4 linked regions of the Homo sapiens genome follow. The protein of the gene in region 4 binds, or shares a complex with, the protein of the main gene of each other region. Each region holds a gene or a part of one and is shown on either strand. Other genes may lie near its edges. The genes, in order: CBLL1, WTAP, METTL14 and RBM15.

Region 1 (3,568 bases), on a different chromosome or scaffold from region 4:
AAGAATTCAACAATTTGTCAAGATAATCATATTAAATTCATAGTATTCCAATACTTCCCTTAGTTATTTCATACTTATTTAAAATTTTGCAAACTTAGTCATTAAACAATGATAAACCTATCTAAATTTCAGAACCCCACCTCTATGCAAATGCTTACTTACAAAAACAATATTTAATTATACTTACCATTCTCCCATAGATTTTAATAGGCAATCCACACTTGTCACAGAAATGAACTGGTGTATCATCCTTTTCACCTAAGATGTTTATCTGTTGAAATGATATAATTAAAATTACCTTCTTACACAATTCTAAAGATTGTATCTACACAATGAATTGGTCAATATTTTATAAAAGTTGTTAAAACAATTAGAAATAGAAGCCTCTTGGTATAATCTCCATTTATTCCCCACCATTAGTTGTGATACCATTAGTTTTTCTTCTTAGTGTTAACAGTTATTGATTTTACTGAAAATTACTTCAAATTATTCTTGAAAATAGAGTATTAACAAATGATTTGTATGTGCTGAAAATCATAGTTATAAGTTCATAATATTCTTAATGTACTGTGCATTACTCCAATAAAACATTTTAAGTATTTAATACTTAAAATATTTTATTGTTATAATACAATTTTTCATTTTTAATTATACCTGAAAGTCCCAAAAAAGGTGTCCAGGAAATCTTCGCTGATTTGCAAACAGCTCACCCCCTTTACAGTCATACCGTTCTTCTTCATTATAATCAAATCCTTCTGAGAAAAAAAAAGTATTGCCCATTAACTTTCCAAATCTCAAATTTCATTTTGGAAGCACATATACATGGCAAAATAGACCTTTTCACTAAAAAGCTCATCTGATGCCTTTCAAAGCTTTTCTAAGAATAAGACAATCAAGATTACTTTAAAACATCAGTTAGAAGTGATCTTGGTGATCTAGTCCAACTCTTTTACTTCATTATTGAGAATATTACTGTATGGAGACTCATAACTCAACATATAGAAGATAAGTGGCAAAGCCAGGAACAGACCTCAGATCTCTTGACTCCCATTCAAATGCTCTTATCAATTCATGAAACTATTTCTAATGTAAAACTTTACTGATGATCATGCTTGTTGCACAAATTTTTAAGATATTGATCACCATTTATTCTAGTCTAGCTACAAAAATGGTATGCTAAGAGACTGATTGTATTGCCAATAGCATAATGAAAACATAAAGCATTCTATCGATTTTATTAGCAAACAAGTTATCCTCTTCTTTAGCCCTAAAATGAGTGATTTAGACACTTTAACATATTCATATTTCATCCTGTCAATTAAAACCACTCCCTGATTAATTACCCAAACAACAGGAGCCATATCGTATTCTCATGTATCCTTTCCTACAATGCATTTATCAATATCAATAAACTTAAGATATATGAAGATGAAAGGGGCTCAATTTCTCTGGCCTAATTAAAAAGTTGATGGCAATCTTCTCAACTCCTACAAAAGAACAGAAAACCAATCAACAGTCTGATGGGAATTCTAGGTAGAATCCAATTACCTAAAGTAAAGCTGAGCAGACAAATATATCCCTCCAAGGAGCCAGGCTTCTCACGACTCTTTTGGCCCTAGAACTGGTAAACAGAGTAGCCAAGCACACAAGTTTTAACTTTACCCACATGACTAAATTACAGCACCTATACACAGACACAGACACACACACACACACACAGAGAGACACATTCACATTAACACACAAACAATGATGCAAGAAGTTTTTGAAGCTGATAGACACTTCAGTGTACTGCTATTTAATTACTGCCAATACGAATGTATAATCCAAAGTCAGGATGCTCTTATAAGTTACACCTGAGTGTTCCTAGGCTCCTATATCACCCATTTACACCTTAGAAAAGCTGGTGTGATCTAAAATTCAAAATAAGGAAACTCAATTAATTTTTCTTTTTTTTTTTTTTTTTTGAGACAGAGTCTCACTCTGTCGCCCAGGTTGGAGTGCAGTGGCGCAATCTCCGCTCACTGCAAGCTCCACCTCCCAGGTTCATGCCATTCTCCTGCCTCGGCCTCCCGAGTAGCTGGGACTACAGGCACCCGCCACCACACCCAGCTAATTTTTTGTATTTTTAGTAGAGACGAGGTTTCACTGTGTTAGCCAGGATGGTCTCAATCTCCTGACCTCATGACCCGCCCGTCTCAGCCTCCCAAAGTGCTGGGAAAACAGGCGTGAGCCACCACACCTGGCAGAAACTCAATTTTTCAAACCAGAAAATTATTGAGATAACAGCCAAGGAAATTAGGAGCACATTATCATTTTTCAGAGTAGTTCCACCTGTACTCCCATCATTAAACTATATATATTTTGATTGATGCCTAGGAAAACAACAATCAAAAACAAACTTATTTTACTCCAAAATCCGAGAGGGAAAGGAGAGAAAAGGATTTTGGCTTTTCTGCATTGTTTGAACTATTAAAGAATTATTTGTACACTAACGTGTTGTTTTAAAAAACTATTTTTTTAAACAAAGCCAAAGCAGGAGTGACCCTAAATTAGAGGTAGTGCAACAGCAGCCCTAGGTTATTACTAACACGATTTCTAACATTTTGACTTGAAATATACTTGTTTAGATGGCAGAGGAACCCTACGATAAAAGAAACCATAACATATGTTGTAACTAAAGCAGTTTGATTCTACAAAATAAATACAGACAAATTGCTGGAATAGAACAGAAAGTCCAGAAATACAAAAAAATACTTTTAATACAGGGGTCCCCAACTCCCAGGCCTTGGACCAGTACCCTTGGCCTGTTAGGAATGCGGCCACACAGCAGGAGGTGAGGGAAGGGCTAGGGAGCATTACCACTTGACCTCTGCCTCCGCCTCCCGTCAGATCAGCAGCCTCATTAGATTCTCATAGGAACGCAAACCCTATTGTGAACCGTGCAAGAGAGGGATCTAGGTTGGTGCTCCTTACAAGAATCTAACTAATGCAACAGTTGCATCCCGAAACCACTCCCCGCACCCTGCCATCACTCTCCACCTGTGGAAAAACTGTCTTCCACGAAACCAGTCCTGGTGCCAAAAAGATTAGGGACTGCTGCTTTAACATATATATGATAACAGTAAAATCCCTATTCAGCAAGGAAAAGAGTTGGGACAATGTTTCGAGGGAAAAAAAAAAAAGCCAGACCCCACCTTTTTTCCCCTTAATAACCATAAATGTTCTAAAGCAGTATCAGTGAACTTTTTCTGTGAAATGCTAAATAGTAAATATTTACGCTTTGTGGACCATATGGTCTCAATCACAATTACTCAACTCTACCATTATAGTGTGAAAGCCCCCATAGATAATACTTAAATGAATGAGCATAGCTGTGTTCCAATAAAATTGTTTATAAAAACAGGGCTACATTTGGCCCACAGACATAGTTTGCTAACCTGTAATCAAGGGTAAGATGGAAAAACTCTTTTATACTGGTGAAATAGGGGAAGGCCTTTCAAATAATGTCACAAAACCCAGAAGTCATAAAAGCAAAGACCGGATATCTGACTATATAGAATCTTCA
Region 2 (2,725 bases), on a different chromosome or scaffold from region 4:
CTGATCATCTTTGCAATTAACCAGAGACACTAATTTTCAATTTAAAATTTCAAAGAATTTGGATATTTTCCTTATTAATAATGCACCTTACAAAGAAGAGAAACAGAGATACAGCTACACTTGCACTAAAAAGGATGGAGGCTGACAAGTTTTATCTCAGCAAATTTAAAGATTAAATCTCTTATTCACTAATAAAACCTTCACAGATACAATCAACTTTATTACTTTCAGATCGCTGAAAACTGCCCATGTTTCTAAGATTTACACTTAACGAGAAATGCTTATTCTCCCTTTCAAACAATGAATACAAATTTGTCCATCTTGTTAAGTAATACAACACCCTTTTATCTTTTACCAAATCCTACCCCCAACTAAAAACAAAAATGTAAGAAATTTTGAACAATAAAGAATTAGGAGGGTGGGGATAAACAAACTAAAATTATATGGCTTTGTTTGCGGACTCAACTAAAAATGCTTCACTCACAATAATATACAATCATAGGGCAGAGGTTAACAATGTACAGAATCTAACCTATAATATTCATGACTGGCAGTTTTAAAAAGCCAATGCAAAGTTGAGACAACGTTCCAAAAAGAAACAAACCCCTTACCATCCTGACTGCTTTTAAGCTCCTCACTGTATTTCTTCTGTAAAGCCAACTCTGCTTCAAGTTGTGCAATACGTCCCTGGGACAGCTGCCTTCCAAGCTCTTGATTCTCCTGGATAAGCATTCGACACTTCGCCATTAACTTTTTCCCTGTTTGGCTGCAAAGGAAAGAGCCATCCATCACAAAATGAAGACAAAACTCTCTGTCTTTGCTTACAATTATTACAGTGATAGATGTAACACATACAAACATAACTATATCACAGCAGATGCTTCCCCATAATTACCATCTTCTTTTCTGGGACACATCCATCTTCTGCATTTCAGTATTTTGCCAACACAGCAGTAAAAATAAACCCTAAACAAAAAGTGCCCAAACAGCTACACCTTGTTTCTATTACATCAATAATCAATTCTGAAATCCATCTATTTTCATCTCAAATTATCATTTGAAATGGAAACAGAGCCAGTTAATTAACACACACCTTGGCTATACCAGTATTATTACACTAAGGAATCTAGCGCTTTATCAGAAAAGTTCTTGAAAAGGTACATGCAACATCAATCACAAATATTTATGAAAATCAGTACCTACAAATAAAAATGAATGAGAGTATTTATTCTTGCTAGAAAAACATTTAATAAGGATTTTCCTTAACAGGAAGTCCTCCAGCATGGGCAACATAGACTCCAACTCTACAAAAAATTTTTTAAAAAGTAGCCAGGCACACATGCTTGTAGTGCCAGCCTCTGGAAAGGCTGAGGTGAGAGGACTGCTTAAGCCCAAGTGGTTGACGCTGTGACCATGCCACTGCATTCCAGCTTCGGAAACAGGGACCCTGTCTCAAAAAAGAGGAGGAGAGAGGGAAGTTTTCTGGTACATCCATCTTCCATAACTCTCAAGAATATTATCTATTATATTAATTGAGGCACATTCAGCAGTTAAGGTTTTTTTTTTAAAGACTTAAGACTTTATTGGAAAAGATCATCCTTTTGACACAAAAATAAGACCAGTGGTCACGTATCACAATTCAAACACGCAAATATCTGCCAATCTAGGAGTGTCACACTTTCCACAGATTATAGTTTCCAAATGCTAGTGCAACATACTACTGAACCTATGTGCACATACATAGCAATTGCAAATATGTAATGAAAAGCTCAAATGTTTCCCAATAAAATTTTACTGCTTTTCTTTAGCCTCAGCAATAAAAGGAGAAATTATTTGCTTGTTCTTGTAATTATTTATGAAAAAAGAAAAAAAAAGAAATGATCACTTTTAAAGGGATCTAAGTAAATAATTGTGATATTTACCTTTGAGACTTGGATAAAGACAGTGTGACATTCTTGTCCTTGGGGTAAGTCCAGGATGACCTTATGGGTTAAAACATTTTTTAAATTCTAGTCTTTCCTTCTTCTAGTGAGGCTTTCACTTGCCTGATACACTACTTCAGTATGCCTTATAAGTTTAAAAATGAGAGCATTTTGTAAATATTTTATCAATCTTTGAAGTGTTGCATGGTTCTTTCACCTACAGCATTTTTTTTTTTTTTTTGAGATGGGGGTCTCACTGTGTTGCCAGGCTGGAGTGCAGTGGCGTGATCTCAGCTCACTGGAGCCTTGACGTCCCCAGGCTCAGGTGATCCTCCCACCTCAGCCTCCGGAGTACCTGGGGACTATAGGTGTGCACGAGCACCCCCAGCTAATTTTGGATTTTTAGTAGAGATGGGGTTTCGCCTTGTTGCCCAGGCTGGTCTCAAACTCCTAAGCTCAAGTGATCTGCCTACCTCAGCCTTCCAAAGTGTTGGGATTACAGGCATGAGCCACCGTGCCTGGCTGCATGTTTTCTAACCTAATGTAATTCAAGGAAAAGTTTGTAATTAAGCTTTCTTCCAGAAAATACCTGAAGAGTTCAACCTGGGTTACTACTGCTCAGAGGAGCCCGAGGGTGAAAGCCACCAGTGAGCATGTGGTAAAGGCTTTATTCTTTGATATGATAACTTTATTAGCTGGTGTTCTTGTTCACTGCTACTGTAGCTCCAGATTTCCACCATTTCCCATCAGCACTCTCAGGCGTTAGCCTCCACTGAACATCCACTTAGAAATTAAACAATGGG
Region 3 (3,338 bases), on a different chromosome or scaffold from region 4:
AAAAAAAAAAAATTGTATAGAAATAAATTTTTAGTTGCTTTATGCACTAATTCCTTACTGGGGATAGAAGCTAATTATTGTGAAATAACCTAGTTTAGAAGTTAGAAGATCAGCATGTCTGAGTTTTTACAGAATTATAATTCATGGTATTCCAAACCAACTGTTGTTATTTATTTCCAGTGAGAACCATTTTCCCACTGACCTTCCTCCTTTCAGAGGATGGGGATTAGGAGGCCCAAAGTACTGATTGAGTAGGAATACTTTTTTACTCTTCTTCACTGTGGAGAAAGAAGAGGGCAGGTAGTTGATGATGTCAGGAGAACAGATTTTATGGTGTGGAATACCATACCTAAACACAAATGAATCAGATTAGACCACAGAATTGTGATGATGGCAGTCAGAATGTAATACGGTCATCATGAAACAGCACAGTGTGAGAGGTCAAGGTGTCAACCTGGGAAGTGAGAATCAAGCAGGAGTGTGGCATGGCAACCAACTCACAGATCCAGAGTTGAGAGGGATCACTACTGCAGCAGTTCTGCTCTGTTACTCTGGTAAGTAGTAGAGCCACTTTATGAGCCCTTATTTCCTATCTCCCTTATTCTGAGGCCAGGTCAGTGATATGCTATAGTTTCATTTAAGTTAATGGAGTATAAAGATGGGATACTTGGGAGCTATATTGTGCATCAGGGTGTCACAGCTGCTACTAGGAGTTACTCCTTTTCATGTCTTTTAAAATACTTTCTACCCATCTTAATTGCTAAATTATCTTTCAGTTAGTTACAGCGCTTAATTTAAAACCTGTACTGTTTTCATCCTGAATTTAGAACATAAGATTTAGCCTTTGAAGTATAGTTTCAGACTTTACTAATTTGTTTAATATAATCCTTATTAACATGACAAAATGAAAGCCCTGTTGGGACTTAGTCTAAACAGTAGTCTTTGATCTGAAAGTGTCTCATATTTTGTGATCTATTAGAAACATAAACCTTTGCTTATGCAGAAGGTCTTTCTTAGAACAATCCTGTAATCTTAGGGTTCATGTGTGACTAGCATTATCCTCTCTTTGATGTTGGGTAATAGAGGCTGAACTTTTCTTGTGTATATATAGTTAGTTTTGAGGCCATAAATCTAGGACTTCTCAAAAGATTAGAACATTTATCCAGTAAACTGACTCCATTGAAGACTTCATTTCTGGAAATACCACATTGCTTCTGCTCTCAATAACTCTATCATTTACTCGTATAAATATTGCTAGCTGTAATGCACAGAGAAAAACTACCTCATTCAATCTAGATAATTGGGACATCCTTTTCCAGTAAACCCTTTTTCCACTACTGGATAAAATATTAAAATGATCAGTTTGAGTGTATGTTAGAGTTCATGTTTCTGTAACTAAAGGTGCTAATAAACTGAAATCAGATAAGGTAGGTTTTTCCAAAAATACTTCTAAATAATTGACAACCTAGAAGTCAACAATGTAAAATGCATATGGGACTCTATATTAATAGAGAAGCAGGCCAAGAACTTTTTAATGGGATAATTGTCTTCTTTAGGCACATTGTTTGCATATTAACGACATGGAAATATTTTCACTCATTTACTTTCATCCATCTATCTGTGCTTTTTCTCACTTTGATGAGTTCTCTCAACTCCTTTCTAAGAAAAGCAGAGCAGAGCAGCATAGAGTGCGTTAGTAAATGGCCACTGACTCTTGGTCTCAGGCCATAGCAACTATAGAGAGAAGAGTGGGGCTGGAGACCTCATACCCTGGGTAAAGTGGACATCACTTGTCAGCTCCAGCTAATTGTCACCACAGAGAGAAGAGGGTAAGTCTGAGATGTTCATGTGCATTTCCCTACATTTTAGAGGTTGACAAAATAGTTTGTGACTTTTGCTTACATTTGCATTCATAGAACTAAAAAAAATTTAACTTGGCTAACAAAATACCACATGCATATTTTCTTTTTTATTTTTATTTTTTGAGACAGAGTCTCTGTTACCCAGGCTGGGGGGCAGTGATAAGATCTTGGCTCACTGCAACCTCCGCCTCCAGGGTTGAAGCGATTCTTCTGCCTCAGCCTCCTGAGTAGCTGGAATTACAGGTGCCCACCACCACACCCAGCTAATTTTAGTATTCTTAGTAGAGACAGGATTTCACCATGTTGGCCAGGCTGGTCTCAAACTCCCGACCTCAACTGATCCACCCACCCTGGCCTCCCAAAGTGTCAGGATTACAGGCGTGAGCCTCTGCAACTGGCCAACATGCATATTTAAATTATGCATGCATTGTAGCTGTATACTGTGTGACCACATTTACTTAAAAAAGAGGAAAAAAGGTTACTTGCTTGAGACAGGAAACTATCACCTTTGAAAGCATATTAAGTAGTTGGCTTACTTTGGAACACACAGTAGACTGAAAATGTGAACTAATACTTTAAAATTGCCGTATAATGATGTCATTGCAAGCCATTCATCTATCCAATGGGGGAAAATGTGGAGGTCTAGGCTTGTGTTGTCACAAAATACACCTTTTAGATAATCCTTACCTGTACAGATTTTTATAACTGTTGTTATCATAAGAGAATGGCTACATCATTATCCTGCCTTTTCTGGGTGTTTATTTTGTTGTTTTTGAAAGTGGACAAAACCTCAAAGCACAATTTTGTTCTGATATATCCAGTTTAGTAGTTTATGCTGGTTAAATGATCAAAGTAATTGCTTAAATGTCTTGTGGAATTAGCTGTCACTTTATAGTTTATGTATTGTGGTGGGTACCTTAATAATAAAAAGATTTTTAATGTAATAATATTGCTCATAATTCATGAAAGCTACATGGGTAGTTGGGTTATTGTTTTGTCTAAGAAGCTAGGTTTATAGCATGGTAAATAAAAACTCAAGATTATAGCTTTCTTTTCTACTATTGAGCTCAATTAAAGGATAATGCATGATTAAAAATATATTTATAAAAATAATTCCAAAGCAAAATTTAGAAAAATGTAAACACAAATGTAAGCCCATCAGCCAACTACCTCCTTGAATCTTAACTCCATATCCTTCCTCAGATGGTGCTGACAAGATAGTGGATCAGGATGGCACCAGCACCTCTTTGGGGACCTTTCCCAGTTCTGATTGCTTTCCTTTACCCTGATTCAAACAGAAAGCTTGCCTTTTCATCTGATACCTGCATTTGTCTACTCACCTAGTCCTGAGCTTTTACACCACTGCTTGGGCTCTTATGACTTAGTTTTTGTTGTTAGCTTTATAAGGGCAGTGGTATGCTTTCTCAGCTTCTAATGTATGGCATATAATAAGTGCTCAATAAATAGTCCCTTTCC
Region 4 (2,469 bases):
TCATTAACATTTAAAAAGCAAACGGAGCATTTCTCCTTCTTTTGGCAATTTGGTGCAAATGTTAAGTGCAAGATAAAGCAATTTCAAACTTTTCTTCAAATTAAAAATGAAACTAAGGCCAAACGTGATGGGTGAACAAAATAAATCAAAACTTAAATTTCAGCAACTCCAGCTCTTCAAACCAGCAAAAGCCCCCGACTCAGGCACTGTGGTGAGGCTTAGGGTGCCTGCCCCGGCTTCTTGCGTGCCAGCAAACAGCACCATTTCCTCATCACGTTGAGAACCGAGAAGCAAATGATCCCCTTCACTGCAAACAAAGGGGGTCAACAGTAACACTAGTGATCCTTCAGAATTGACACACCGTGATAGTCAAAATGAAATTGATGGTCTCCCTGCTTCTTGCTCAAGACATACAAGATCTGAGCAGCAGCAAGCACCCCCTCGGCTGCAAACAAAGGGGTCAAAGGTTTGCCGTCAATTCACTTCCAGGCAGAAAAACATTTTCCTCAAAAGAAACAATTTATTTAGAATAAAACAAAAGCAGCTCAACTGTGAGCGCACGTTTGAGAGACAGCTACTCTTAAGCTGTGTGAGCCATAAAAAGGGTTTTTCTTTACTTTTCCAGAAATCTTGTGTACACAGCACAAATCAAAGAGGTCATTTTTTTTCCACTTAAAACACCGGCATTGGCATCACAATAGCAGATACACAACTTTAAGCTGCCATTTTAGTAAAATGCACAAATACTAAACAGATTAGCTTTCTTCCATCAGAGGCCCATGTAAACTCCACATAAGCCACAACTTCTCTTCAAAAAGGTCCATTAGAGCTTTGAATTCCATATCTTCATCCGCTGTTCAACCAGTTTTGCTTGCGGAGGGGGGGAAAAAAAGGTTATTCAGTACAAATGTTTACAATATTAAAAATATATATATTTCCCCTATGCCATTATAGATGAACATAACATTAACAAGACCTTCCTGGATGGTTCACCTCAACTTCAAAAAGCACCAATAATACCCACTGGCATAAACCTTGAAATGAATTTACTGTATGAATAGACATATAACAAGTAGAACAATAGGGTGGGTTTTTTTAAAGACTGCAATTGAAGATAACAGGACTGAAAATATCCTTTAACTCATGTAACTGAGTAAAACATGTTGAAAAAATTCAGAAAAAAGTTTCACAATCAATTTATAATCTATCAATATATTCTAAATATAACTTAAAAAGTGAAACTATAAAAAGGTAAAGTTTAGTCAAACTTTTGCCCCATCTATTTTCATTCTGTAATTTATATGGAGCAACATAGACTACTCCATTATTGTAGAAAGGGGTCGATACAAAGCCATTTAAAAATCCACCCTCATCTATGTTACCAAAGACAGCAGCCGTTATTTTAATAAAACACTCATACAAATAATTGTTAAACAGCCAAAGAACACTTCAGGAATCTCACTTTTCAACTCTGTTTAAACCATACATATAAAACTCTTCATTCAGCTTAACATTTCACTGTGGTTACCTGAAATCATTTCCTCCCTTTAGGGACACCACTATAACCACTATAACAGGGTCAGCGCCAAGTTTTCTCTCTTCTTGTTCTCATACCTAACTCCTATCTGAAAACCAAACCCTGTGAGAGAGACAGAAAAAAAAATGTCCAGAAATTCTCTCCAAAATTTTTTTCACATAAAAGGTCATTAAGGCCCTCTTCTCAAGAGGATTTCCTAATTCTGTTACCAGAGTTTTTGGTGATTGGTTCCTATATGGACCCAAACTATAGTTCAAGCTGTATATGCATAATGAACAATCTGCCTTAAAAAAGTGGATTTACATTTTTTATTTTTAAAAAAGCATTGTCAGTGAAAACCTGCTAATAGTTTTTAAATAAACCTAAACAATGTCTGACTCTGAAAGCAATAACCAAACACCTGACTCTTATTACTGGACCTAAAATGACCTGTAACTGAGTCAAGAAGGGCCAGAGTATATTTTACCTTCAAAAGGTGACAAATGCTTATAACCAGCCAGGCGATGGACATTTTAAGATGTAATCCTCAAAAGAAAAACTCTATCCACTCTCAGTTGAGAGTCAAAGTACACCAGAAATTTAAAACTTTGTGTGAAAAATTATTTATAGGAATCCCAACAAAATACTTAACCAAAAAGTTAAGCAGAACTATTGGCTAGGTATTGCTTGCTTAATTTTCCATAAAATTTGAAGCTGTGATCTAAAAGTCTTATCTTCACGTTTTTACCAATAATACTTAATAGTCATTAAATGATATCCTGAAGTTTTCTTTCCATTCATTTTAACTGAGTTCCAGAAAAATCAACTACATTAAAATAATTAAAGAAGAAAGATAGAAAAAAATTGGTTGTTACAAAGAACATTCAACGTTGGGATTATTAAATCCTGGCTAATGAGAAGTAGAACCGGTTTTAGACTTTTGCTTTCATTTG

The links.
Region 1: RBM15 (region 4) and CBLL1 share a complex: the UniProt entries of both Homo sapiens proteins name them as parts of the WMM complex.
Region 2: RBM15 (region 4) and WTAP share a complex: the UniProt entries of both Homo sapiens proteins name them as parts of the WMM complex.
Region 3: RBM15 (region 4) and METTL14 share a complex: the UniProt entries of both Homo sapiens proteins name them as parts of the WMM complex.

Annotation. Positions count from the first base shown.
Region 1 is NC_000007.14:107,750,598-107,754,165, reverse strand, and holds part of CBLL1 (E3 ubiquitin-protein ligase Hakai), read right to left. Parts: intron 1,622-3,568; exon of another isoform or gene 1,549-1,621; intron 756-1,548; coding exon 655-755; intron 272-654; coding exon 188-271; intron 1-187. UniProt on the Homo sapiens protein: E3 ubiquitin-protein ligase that mediates ubiquitination of several tyrosine-phosphorylated Src substrates, including CDH1, CTTN and DOK1. Targets CDH1 for endocytosis and degradation.
Region 2 is NC_000006.12:159,751,501-159,754,225, reverse strand, and holds part of WTAP (pre-mRNA-splicing regulator WTAP), read right to left. Parts: intron 767-2,725; coding exon 612-766; intron 1-611. UniProt on the Homo sapiens protein: Associated component of the WMM complex, a complex that mediates N6-methyladenosine (m6A) methylation of RNAs, a modification that plays a role in the efficiency of mRNA splicing and RNA processing.
Region 3 is NC_000004.12:118,712,625-118,715,962, forward strand, and holds the end of METTL14 (N(6)-adenosine-methyltransferase non-catalytic subunit METTL14), read left to right. Parts: 3' UTR 1-2,806; downstream 2,807-3,338. UniProt on the Homo sapiens protein: The METTL3-METTL14 heterodimer forms a N6-methyltransferase complex that methylates adenosine residues at the N(6) position of some mRNAs and regulates the circadian clock, differentiation of embryonic stem cells and cortical neurogenesis.
Region 4 is NC_000001.11:110,344,709-110,347,177, reverse strand, and holds the end of RBM15 (RNA-binding protein 15), read right to left. Parts: intron 1,640-2,469; coding exon 1,569-1,639; 3' UTR 1,529-1,568; intron 871-1,528; coding exon of another isoform or gene 824-870; 3' UTR 501-823; downstream 1-500. UniProt on the Homo sapiens protein: RNA-binding protein that acts as a key regulator of N6-methyladenosine (m6A) methylation of RNAs, thereby regulating different processes, such as hematopoietic cell homeostasis, alternative splicing of mRNAs and X chromosome inactivation mediated by Xist RNA.